Linked DNA regions of Homo sapiens: region 1 is linked to region 2. Evidence: fine-mapped expression QTL. A gene starts in region 2. The other region holds a variant in brackets. All regions are shown on one strand. Distances are between the middles of the regions. Region 1 holds the start of LOC105370910 (a long non-coding RNA gene). Region 2 holds the start of SKIC8 (SKI8 subunit of superkiller complex).

Region 1 (5,376 bases), 20 kb after region 2:
TCACTTGAGCAGGAAACCCTTTGTAATATGGCTGTGCAATGAGAGGAACGATCCTTTGGAAGGGAGCTCAATCTGGGAGAATGAGGTGGAAAACACTGGGGAGTTCTATGCCTTTGCAGACCCTCAAGTCACCCCGGATTACTGGTCAGAGAAGCTGGCTGTGCCATGGGCCAAACCAGCAGCATTCTCCCTTGGCTTCTGTTGCTGCACTGAGGCTGCCGGGGACACAGAAGGATTTAGTTTTCTTTACAAGTAAGCACTTTGGTGGGAAAGCATTGCAAAAGTTGTCAACAGAAAATCATTAAAACCCTGAAGAACAAGGTGTGAGGGTCACAGGCAAACAGTTATCAGCATATGATTCAAACACTGGTTTGTCCTCACCACAGAGCTTGGAAGGTTCAGAAAACTTCCAAGAGAGATGATCAGACACTCACGTTCCATCCACTGAAGGGCACAGAACAGTAGGAACTAAGTTGGCCCTGTTAAGCAGGCACATGCAGCCATGTCCGATCCACGGATGTGCTTTTATTCTTTAAGAGGATCATCTAGAATCCTCAGAAATGTTATCTTAGCAGCCCTGAGATCATGCCCTCAATAACTCTGCCAAGGGAAGAGGGGAGAAACCACAGACCTAGAGATGAGTCAGGATGCCCACTTTGTGCCTTGGGGTTTGCTAGGGGGGCTAAGCTGCTAACTGGGCTGTGCCTTATTGGTGACACTGAATTATGGCAAAGCCACTAGAAGCACAAAGTATTGGTGCAATCACTGACATCTCAAAAGTATATCCTGAAAATAGAAATGAACAGATTCCATATGCAGACTAGAGGTGATTTATACTTAAAACATTTAAATATAAATTAAGCTATAACTTAAGTTACAACCAAAAGAAAAGCCAAAAAGACACTCAGCAATTAAGAATGCTGAACACATACACAGGACATCCCAAACACAAGGCCATTAAAGCGATGTCATTTTCATTGTGCCAACTTTACATTCATCATGTGCTAGTCCGGTGGGGCCACGCTGCCCCGCACCACGTCATGCCGTCTGGCACTGCACTCCAGCCTGGGGCCCGTCTTCGTCCTCCTCGTAGGCCTCCCTGTGCTGACGCCAGTTCTGCTCATTGGGACAAAACTCCTTCAGCTCCACCTGATCCATGTCATCTGTAATCCTCACTTTCTGTCGAGGAGGGAGTAAAGCTTCCAGCTGAGGAAGCTTTTCCAGAGAAAGCCAGTGTTTTTCAGGAAAGATTACCTGTAAAGGGTGAGGTGGGAAAGAAAGGTGGCTGTTTTTTCCCCTTCCAATTAAGGCATTTAATAATATGTCCATGACAATGAAACATAGTGAACTTACTAAAAACTGTATGATCAGAATCCCTTTTTCCAGGGGTGCTTTGTAGATGGGCATTCCTTCATCGCGCACGCATCTCAGGTCCCCGTGCTTTATCACCTCACCTGCCAGAGAAAGGGTCAATTAGGAAGGAGGAAGGCAGAGGGGCCTGCAGAGGTCGTTCTCCCTCATGGGAGAGCCTGCGGCAGGCCCTAGTGCCCCGTGGCAGTGGGCAAAGGAAACGTGGCATCTGACTGGAAAGCTGGCCCCAATCCCAGGTATCCTTGTCAGGTACTGCCTGGGGAAGGGGCTCAGGCTGAGACTCTGGCCTGTGCTCTGGGCTCCAGCAGTGTGTCAAGAGGGCAGCATGGTGCAGCTGCCATCACAGGTAGGTTTAAAACAAGTGAACTAGAAGTCATGACACCCAAGTCTGCCTAAAATGGGGCCAACACCTGTCACCCTGCCTCTTTGTGGGGTGACAGGTATCCCTACCACGAGGGGGACAGGAGTGCTCCCCACAGACAGGAAGAAGCCTCAATAGAGTCCAACCAGTCCCCTGCCTGGCATAAAAACTGGCTCTTGGCCACCTGCAGGTGACACCCAGGTTCCTTGGTAGGGAGCTCACTAGGTGGCTTGGCCACTGGCAGACTCCTTCATGGTCACAATGCACTTCCATACATGCTGCTGAGCTGGAGTCACCCTCCCGGCTGGCACCCGCTGGGTCTTACAGCTACGTGACTTTGGAAGGCATCAGAGGAGTTCAGACCCCAAGAACTCTAAGGCGTTCTCCCAAGTCAGAAACTTCCCTCTAAGCATGGAAAAGGAAAGGGACAAAAGGGTTTCTGATAAAGCATGCTCTTCAGCTCAGCGATGAAAATGGACAAAGACAGAAAGAAATGTTCGGAAAAAATGGGGGAGACGGTGGAGGGGAATGGAAACACTAATTTCTTCAGCAGTCCACTTCCATACGGGACTATGTAGAAAGTGAGCTGTCTCTTCAAGAGGAAATCTTTAAAGAGGAGGTTTTAAAAATAAAGTAAGCCAATGACTATCCTTGAGATTCATTCGCAGGCAGGGCTGTGGTTCAGACATGGCCTTCAGAGCCTACTGACTGTGCAGGACAGCAACCCCTTAGCTAAACTGCTCCAGGCTGCTGGCTTTTTGTGTTCCTGTTTATTCTTTTTTTTTGAAATACAGTCATGGCCAGGCACGGTGGCTCACGCCTGTAATCCCAGCACTTTGGGAGGCCGAGGCGGGCGGATCACGAGGTCAGGAGTTCGAGACCAGGTTGATCAACATAGTGAAACCCCGTCTCTACTAAAAAAAAAAAAAAAAAAAAAAAATAGAAAAACTAGCCAGGAATGGTGGTGTGTGCCTGTAATCCCAGCTACTTGGGAG[G/A]CTGAGGCAGGAGAATGGCGTGAACCCGGGAAGCAGAGTGTACAGTGAGCCAAGATCACGCCATTGCACTCCAGCCTGGGCGACAGAGCGAGACTCCGTCTCAAAAAAAAAAGAAATACAGTCATGCACAGCATAGTGACCTTTCAGTCAACAACATTTATGAAGATGGTTGCAAAGATTACACCAAACTTTTACTGCACCTTTCCTATGTTCAGATACTCACATACTCAGCATCGTACTACAACTGCCCACAGTATTCAGTACAGCAACCTGCTGTGCAGGTTTTAGCCCAGGAGCAACAGGCTATGCCACACAGCCTAGGGTGTAGCAGGCTATGCTATCTAGGTCTGTGTGAGTACATTCTATGGTGTTCACACCACAACGACATCGCCAAACAATGCATCTCTCAGAACATATCCCCTTCGTTAAGTTACATATGACTGGTTTTTCTGTCTCCCCATTCCTATCAGGTGTCGCTTCTTGCTGCTCTCAAGCCCTACTCCCCATGCTTCTGCTTCTAGCTTGCTGGGAGCTGGGAAACTGACCAAGCATGGAAAACTACAGGTAAGAGAAGAAGACCACGAGTTAGGCTCTCCCGGCAGGTAAATACCTGCCTGCAGGCAGGGCCATCACACCCTTGTGTGGCTCCAAAATCACTTTTTTAATTAATCCAATCCTCAGCAATGCTCATAACAGGCTAAAAGGCTCTGGGGAAGAAGGCATTTCAACAGCAGAAAAGAGGAAGAAGAGGGAGAAGAGAAAATGGAGAAACAAGAAATAAGCCAACACAAAAGAGGGGTGAAGAAAAGAGAGGGTGCAAAAGAGAACAAAGTAAAAACAAAAACAAAACAAAAAGGACAAACAAATCCCCAAAGAACTCTCCAACGGCAGGTTTCCTGGATGCTCCACCCTTCCTTATAATAAAGAAGGAAATGGATTTCTTGGGATTTGCCACTTCCTTCCCTCTGGGGCTCTTTCTCCACCACCCTCACTCCATTTGGCTCCCGGCTCCCTAGGCTGGGGTCAGCTGAGACAGCAAGGAACGCTGGCTCTTGGTGGGGCCCAGGACCTCAAATAGTCCACCCCTGGACAGGACAGGCTTTCCCAAAGAAGTTACACACAGATGCTTCCCAGCCCCGGCTCAGGAGGGCTAGGATCTGGGCTGTGACCACGTAAGGGCATCTTGGACACAATGCCAGGGTGTTGAGCTCACAACCAGTGGTCTGGAGCTTCGTGTAAACTGTGATCCTCAAACTCCTCCTTGAGGGAGGAAATGGGTGCCTTGGGAGGTCTATGGAAGCCTAAGGGAAGGTGTTTTATTTTAAATTTTCATGCAAATTTTGCATTATACTGCAGTGCTTCCCCCAATCCTGGATTAAGTATATGTATAAAAACACACACAAGTCTGGGCAACATGGCGAAACCCCGTCTCTACAAAAAGTACAAACATTAGATGGGCGTGGTGGCATGTGGCTGTCCCAGCTACTCGGGAGGCTGAGGTGGAGGTTACAGCGAGCTGAGATCACGCCACTGCACTCCAGCCTGGGCGACAGAGCAAGACCCCTGTCTCAAAAAATAAATGAACAAATTTTAAAAATAAATAAAAACAGACACAGATCAAATGACAAACCAAATGGGGTAAAATGTTAACATCAGACAAATCATATATGGATGGGCCTCGGACTATTTTTATATTTACAACTTCTTGTAAGCTTGAAATTGTTTCCAAATAAGTTTATTTTAAAACTCCACAAACCGATCAAGGCTTGGATATATAATTCTGCTTCCTACTATCCCCAGGAAAGGAGGAACCTGAAAGAATCCAAGAGAGGAAAGAGAAAAAGAGCACAAGGCTGGGAAGAGAAAAGCAGACAAGGAGGGGAAGGGGGAGAGGGACACGGAGGGAACAGAAGTCCAGGCCTCAGTCACCCCACCAGACTTGAGTCTTATCTCCAGCTGCCACTGCCCTGGGGGCAGGCTTATTGGTGGTTACCTCCCTGCCTGCCCTGAACCTACCCCTTTTGCACCAAACCTCAAATGGCCATAGAAAAAGGTAATCCCAGCCCCACGGCCAGTGAGGGGACTACAGCAACACTGCAAATGGCTGGTGCTGGGGCCCAGGCTGCTTCGGTGGCGTAGCCGCCACCACACCCATCCAGACATTCTTTGCTATGCACAGCTGACCTTAGTGCTATTCAGAAGCAGCTTCAAGTCAAGGTCCCTGGCCTGGCCTCTCTCCCTTCTCAGCCCCTTCTAGGCAGGTGCTCTGGTGCCCACACAAACCCTCAACTACAGTGAACACACCAACCCTCCTGGGAGATGAGTGCCCTGGTGTCTACAGGGGGGTTGGGGGCTGAGCTCAGGCCTCAGGAACCCTTTCGGCCTAGAGGCATCTCCCTCTGGCTCCCATGGGTGTGTGCAGACCAGCAATTCCTGTGGAAACCTCCAAGGATAAACTGATAGGCAAAGTCTTTCTTACAGGAAAATTCTATTTTAAAATGTAACTCATGTAATGAACAACAGAGGCTACAGGAACATGTGGATGAATCAGCACAAATCACCACTTGATAGAAAAACACCACCTATTAAGCTGTTTTCTTATACAAAAATAAATTTTTAAAAACTTAAGTTTAATTGCCAGAATTCATC
Region 2 (5,376 bases):
CTTCATGATATAATTTGTACATTCTTCCTTAGCTTCAGGGGCACATGCCTGACCCTGGTCCAATAGATCCAGAATGGTTACAAGGATATCTTGACTTATAAGAGATGCCACATAAGAATTTTGACAATTCAGTCTTGAAGTCTGCTCACTTTGACCCAAACTTTTTAAGCCAGTGACATGCAGAGGGTCCACTGGGGCTGGATGAAATTTCTATGGACAGAGATGTCACAGAGCTGGGAAGGAGAGAAATAGCTCTCCAGTCAATGTGACTGAGAAAAATTAGTCATATCACTCTGAAACATGTGAACTTGAGGGTTAAGGATGCTGGCATGCAGGGAAGTCATGTGTGCAGCAGAAGAGCTGCAGGATGTCTTCTCTTTTGTGTTAATGTGAGATTACTGAGGACAAGAGAATAGGTCCTGGGAGATGTGGGTGTATTTGCCAATTTCTCACCACACATAGCCTCCTCAAAAAGCCCCCAAAGATGGCCAGGTGCAGTGGCTCATGCCTGTAATCCCAGCAACTTGGGAGGCAGAGGTGGGTGGAGCACCTGAGGTCAGGAGTTTGAGACCAGCCTGGCCAACATGGTGAAACCCCGTCTCTACTAAAAAAAAAAATACAAAAAAAAATTAGCCGGGTGTGGTGGTGGGTGCCTGTAGTCCCAGCTACTGGGGAGGCTGAGGCAGGAGAATCACTTGAACCCAGGAGGCAGAAGTTGTAGTGAGCCGAGATTGCGCCACTGCACTCCAGCCTGGGTGACACAGCAAGACTCAGTCTCAAAAGAAAAAAAAGCCCCCAAAGATGAACTTCACCTAGTTGTAAGTGGTCTAATAGTCCTCCGTCTCTCTCTCTATATATATATTTGAACTTCAAAACTAGTTTTTTCGAAAAATATTTTTTAGAGCCAGGGTCTCACTCTGTCACCCAGGCTACAGTGCAGTGGCCCAATCATAGCTCACTGCAGCCTCAAACTCCTGGGCTCAAGTGATCCTCACTTCTGCCTCCTGAGCAGCTGGGTCTACACGTGCACACCACTGCGTCTGTAACTTTAAAATTTTTTGTAGAGATTGGGTCTCGCCATGTTGCCCATACTGGTCTTGAAATCACGGCCAGAAGCAATCCTCCCCCCTTGGCCTCCCAAAGTGCTGGGATTACAGGAGTGAGCCACCACATCTGAGCCACAGGGCGGCCTCCATAATGGGGCATGAGCCTCTTCCCATCTTTTTTTGTTGTTGTTATTCGAGACAGTCTCACTCTGTTGCCCAGGCTGGAGTGCAGTGGTGTGATCTGTGCTCACTGCAACTTCTGCCTCCAGGGTTCAAGCGATTCTCCTGCCTCAGCCTCCCAAGTAGCTGGGATTACGGGCACATGCCACCACACCCGGCTAATTTTGTTTTTGTTTCTGTTTTTTTTTTTTTTACTTGAGACGGGGTTTCACCATATTGGCCAGGTTGATTTCAAAACTCCTAACCTCAAGTGATCCACCCACTCCGACTCCCAAAATGCTGGGATTACAGGCATGAGCCACCACACCCAGCCCCATCTCTTTTTTTTTTTTTGAGACGGGGTCTAGTTCTGTTCCCCAGGCTGGAGTGCAGTGGCGTCATCACGGCTCAATGTAGCCTCAACCTCCAGGGCTTAAGCGATCCTCCTGCCTCAGCCTCCCAAGTAACTGGAACTACAGGCATGTGCTAATTGTTTTTATTTTTAGTAGACACGAGGTCTCTCGCTATGTTGCCCAGGCTGGTCTGGAAACCCAGAGCTCAAGCAAGCCTCTCACCTCGGCTCCCAAAGTCCTGGGATTACAGACGTGAGCTACTCTGCCTGGCCCTCAAAAAAAAAAAAAAAAAAAGTCAGTTGACAACCTATTAAACTGATATCTGTCACGTTAATGGGTCATGACTAGCAGTTTGAAAGACAAAGCTCGATTTCACTGAATTTATTTCAGCAACAGAAGTTATTAGCTTTAGTCCAATCTCAAAAGTACAAAATGAAATTGCAACACAAACCTCTAAACCTGCAGTTGCCGGAAGCTAAACGTCTGCGCTTCCGGAAGCAAATTTCCAACTACCACTCCTCTGGAAGCAGGACCTGGCTTCCTCCCTCCTCTCTCCGCCCACCCTCGTCGGCGTCTGCCCCGCGCCCGCCATAGCGACGGCAACGGGCGCTGCGGAGTGCTCCGAGCCGTGAGGGCGGGGCCGGCGCGATGCCCCGCCCCTTCGATAGCTCATCTTTGCGCGTCGCAGTCGCGCGGAGCCCGGCTTCCGACGTGCAGCCTGGCAGTGCAGTGGTGAGTTGGAGCGCAGGGCCGTTGGGGATTGGGGTCATTAGGGCCGTTGACAGTCCAGGCCAGAGGGCGAGTGAGCGAGGTTGGGCCCGAGGCTGCCTGTAAGCAGGTCCGTTCAGGGATGCTCCAGGCCCTGGGGCCTGAGGGTGGCTTCCATGGCTCCATTTGCCCTGGCTGTTCCTCGGTGTACGGGGCCTGAGGGGAGTGGGGGAGGCCCGTGGGTGGCCTCCTTTTGCGTCCTGAGAATGTTCTGGGCAGTATCGAGATTAGGGCTGGTTTCTCTGCGGAGGAGATCATTTATCCGTAGCTGGGAGGGCTGTATTAACCGAAGTTTTCCAGTAGTGGGCCACGCTGTCTTAGGTAGCGTGCTGGACAGATACAGACATCACTGGACGGGTACAGACAGAGGCTGGGTTCGCTTTACGCCAAGTACCGTGCAATACTGTGGGCTGTTGACTTGCCTGAGTAGTTTCATAGAGGCATCTGTAGTGTTCCTTGGAAACACTGAGTCAGTGATGAATTCTGCCTAGGAAATTTAGGGAAAAGTTTCCCAAAGAGAGAAGATGGCAAGAGAGGGCTAAGGTCTAAAGTCTCTTAGCTCTGACCTTCATAAGACCCTGAAGTAAGAGGTAGTGTATCTTGGTAGCCTATACTATAGCTTGTATCCACCTTTTAGTGTCCCTTGGGGAAGCTTCCTTAACCGCTTCTAAGCCTCCCTTTTCTTACTAGAAAAGTGGAACTGATAATAAAAAAATAGTAGTTCCCCCCTTATCTGCGGGGTGTACGTTCCAGTGGATGTCTGAAATCTTGGATAGTGAAGGACCCTGACTGACTTACCGTGGTTTGACTTACAATTTTTCAACTTTACATAGGTTTATTGGGAAGTAACCCCATTGTAAGTTGAGGAGCATCTATACTGTGTTTTTTCTCATACAGATTACACATACATACCTGTGATTACTTAGTTTAATTCGTAAATTAGGCACAATAAGAGAATAACAACAATAATAATAAAATAGAATTATAACAGTGTAATAAAATGTATGTGAATGTGGTCTCTCTCAAAATATCTTACTGCACTCTACTCACCTATTTTTGGACTACGGTTGACCTCTGGAACTGTGGAAATCAAAACCTCAGCTAAAGAACTACTGTACCTAGTAAGCGGGGTTATGAGGTTTCAGTGAGCTAAATCTTTGTGTATTACTTAAAATAGGACCGGATTCATTGTACATCCTCAAATGTGCACTCATTGATAGAATCACACCCTTGTCTTTTGGAGCCCGGGTTTTTGGAAGCTGGCTTACCGCAAGCCTTCCTCCTTTTTTTGTTTCTATCCATTGCCAAATGTGAGGCCCAGAATGACAGGGAAGAGGACAAGCCTGTGCTTCAGCAGGCAGAAGGCTGTGCTGAAGCAGAGGTTGAATACCATTCCCATTAGCCAAACTGGCTTGAGCACTTTCCTGTCTTTCCTACCCTGGGCAGAAAGAACCCTGTTCATGGGTCACAAATGAATAAAACACTACCAACCTGTCTGTAATCCCAGCACTTTGGAAGGCCAAGACAAGAGGATCGTTTGAGGCCAGGAGTTTGATACCAGCCTGGGCAACATAATGAGAACTTGTCTTTACAAAACCAAAACAAAACACTACCAATTTGAGATCTTCATAGGCAAGGATTAGTTATAAATTGTTTGTTTGTTTGATTTCCTGTTATTGGAAAACCTTCGGCAGCTTTTTAGGCTGGCAGATTTAAAGAAAGTAACCTGAACCTGGATGCCTTAACTGTGTGGTCCCTTAAACTGCCAATGGGTAGAATTGCGAGGGCCGTGAACTTGGCTGAGAGGAAAAATTGCATCTTTATGTTTCCTAACCTCCAACTGAAATTTAGCATTTTCTTCCACTGTGAATGTAGGCAACAAATCACATTATTAGCAGTGTGACTTTGTTATGAATATAAATTATAGATATTTTCATATCATGATATTGTGTAAGCTCATTGCAACTTCGAAATTATGGTAGTTATTAAATTTGCTTCTAGATCACATATATAATGTGTCAGTAAAGAAGCACATATGTTTTTGTATTTTGATAAAATTTTAGCATACAGTCTATCCTCATTATTTGTGGATTCTGTATTTATGAATTCACCTACTTACTAAAATTTGTCTGTAGCCCTCAAATTAATACTTACAATGCTTTTGTGGTCTTTGGAAGACATGACATTTTTTCACGTGAAAAATTTTAGTTGCCTGATGCACATGTTCTCAACTGAAGTCAAACAAGGTGACACTGCCTTCTTGTCAACTCTCATATTGTAAGCAAATGTCATTTTTGCAGTCTTTGGTGCTACATTTTTCTCATCTTTGTGCTTTTTGTCGGTGATTCCACTGTTTGAGATAGCCCCCAAGCATAGTGCTGAGGTGCTTCTAAATGCAAGAAGATTGTGATTTGTCTTATGGAGAAAATATGTGTGTTAGATAAGCTTTGTTTAGGCATGAGTTCAGTATTAATGAATTACTAATGTATATTCAGTAAGTGCCTTTAAACATAAACACACATAAAACATGATTATGTATTGATTGGTTGACAAGAATGTGCCCAGAGGCTTTCAGGAACCTGTTTCCCCAAGGAACAGTGGTTCTGTGTTGGATAATTTAGTGTCTGTAGCGACTTCATAGAACATAATTGTTGTGAATAATGAGAACCTACTGTAATTGGTTTCATTTCTAAACCTGTGTATTTTCTGTAAAGACATCCTGAGCCTGAGTCTGGTGGCTCATACCTGTAATCCCAGCACTTTGGGAGGCCAAGACAGGAGGATTGCTTGAGCCCAGGAGTTCAAGACCAGCCTAGGCAACATAGGGAGACCCCATCTCTACAAAAAATTAAAATATCCAGACATGTTGGCACGCACCTGTAGTCCCAGCCACTCGGGCTGAGGTGGGAGCAAGACTTGGCCTGGGAGGTTGAAGCTGCATTGACCATGATTGTGCCACTGCACTCCAGTCTGGGTGATGGAGCAAGACCCTATCTCGAAAAAAAAAAGTCCGCCAAAGGGGGTCTTTGGCACACACAAAGAAATAAGAA

The links. PIP is the estimated chance that this variant, and not a neighbour inherited with it, causes the effect. A credible set is the group of variants that fine-mapping cannot tell apart.
Region 1: its variant is the best candidate, but not a certain one, in a credible set for the expression of SKIC8 in T cells (TOPMed, PIP 0.85).

What each region holds. Positions count from the first base shown.
Region 1 is chr15:78,276,123-78,281,498 of GRCh38, reverse strand. DNAJA4 (DnaJ heat shock protein family (Hsp40) member A4) reads right to left here. Exons shown (of 7, transcript NM_001130182.2): 6 at 1,354-1,454; 7 at 1-1,254. The coding sequence ends at 1,039. It overlaps LOC105370910 (a long non-coding RNA gene), which reads left to right and starts at 2,699. Exons shown (of 2, transcript XR_932500.3): 1 at 2,699-3,291. RefSeq lists an enhancer at 4,578-4,872. The variant G/A (reference allele first, on the strand shown) is at 2,728.
Region 2 is chr15:78,296,476-78,301,851 of GRCh38, reverse strand. It overlaps SKIC8 (SKI8 subunit of superkiller complex), which reads left to right and starts at 2,243. Exons shown (of 11, transcript NM_025234.3): 1 at 2,243-2,290. RefSeq lists enhancers at 1,846-1,935, 1,111-2,077, 2,176-2,525, 2,078-3,045.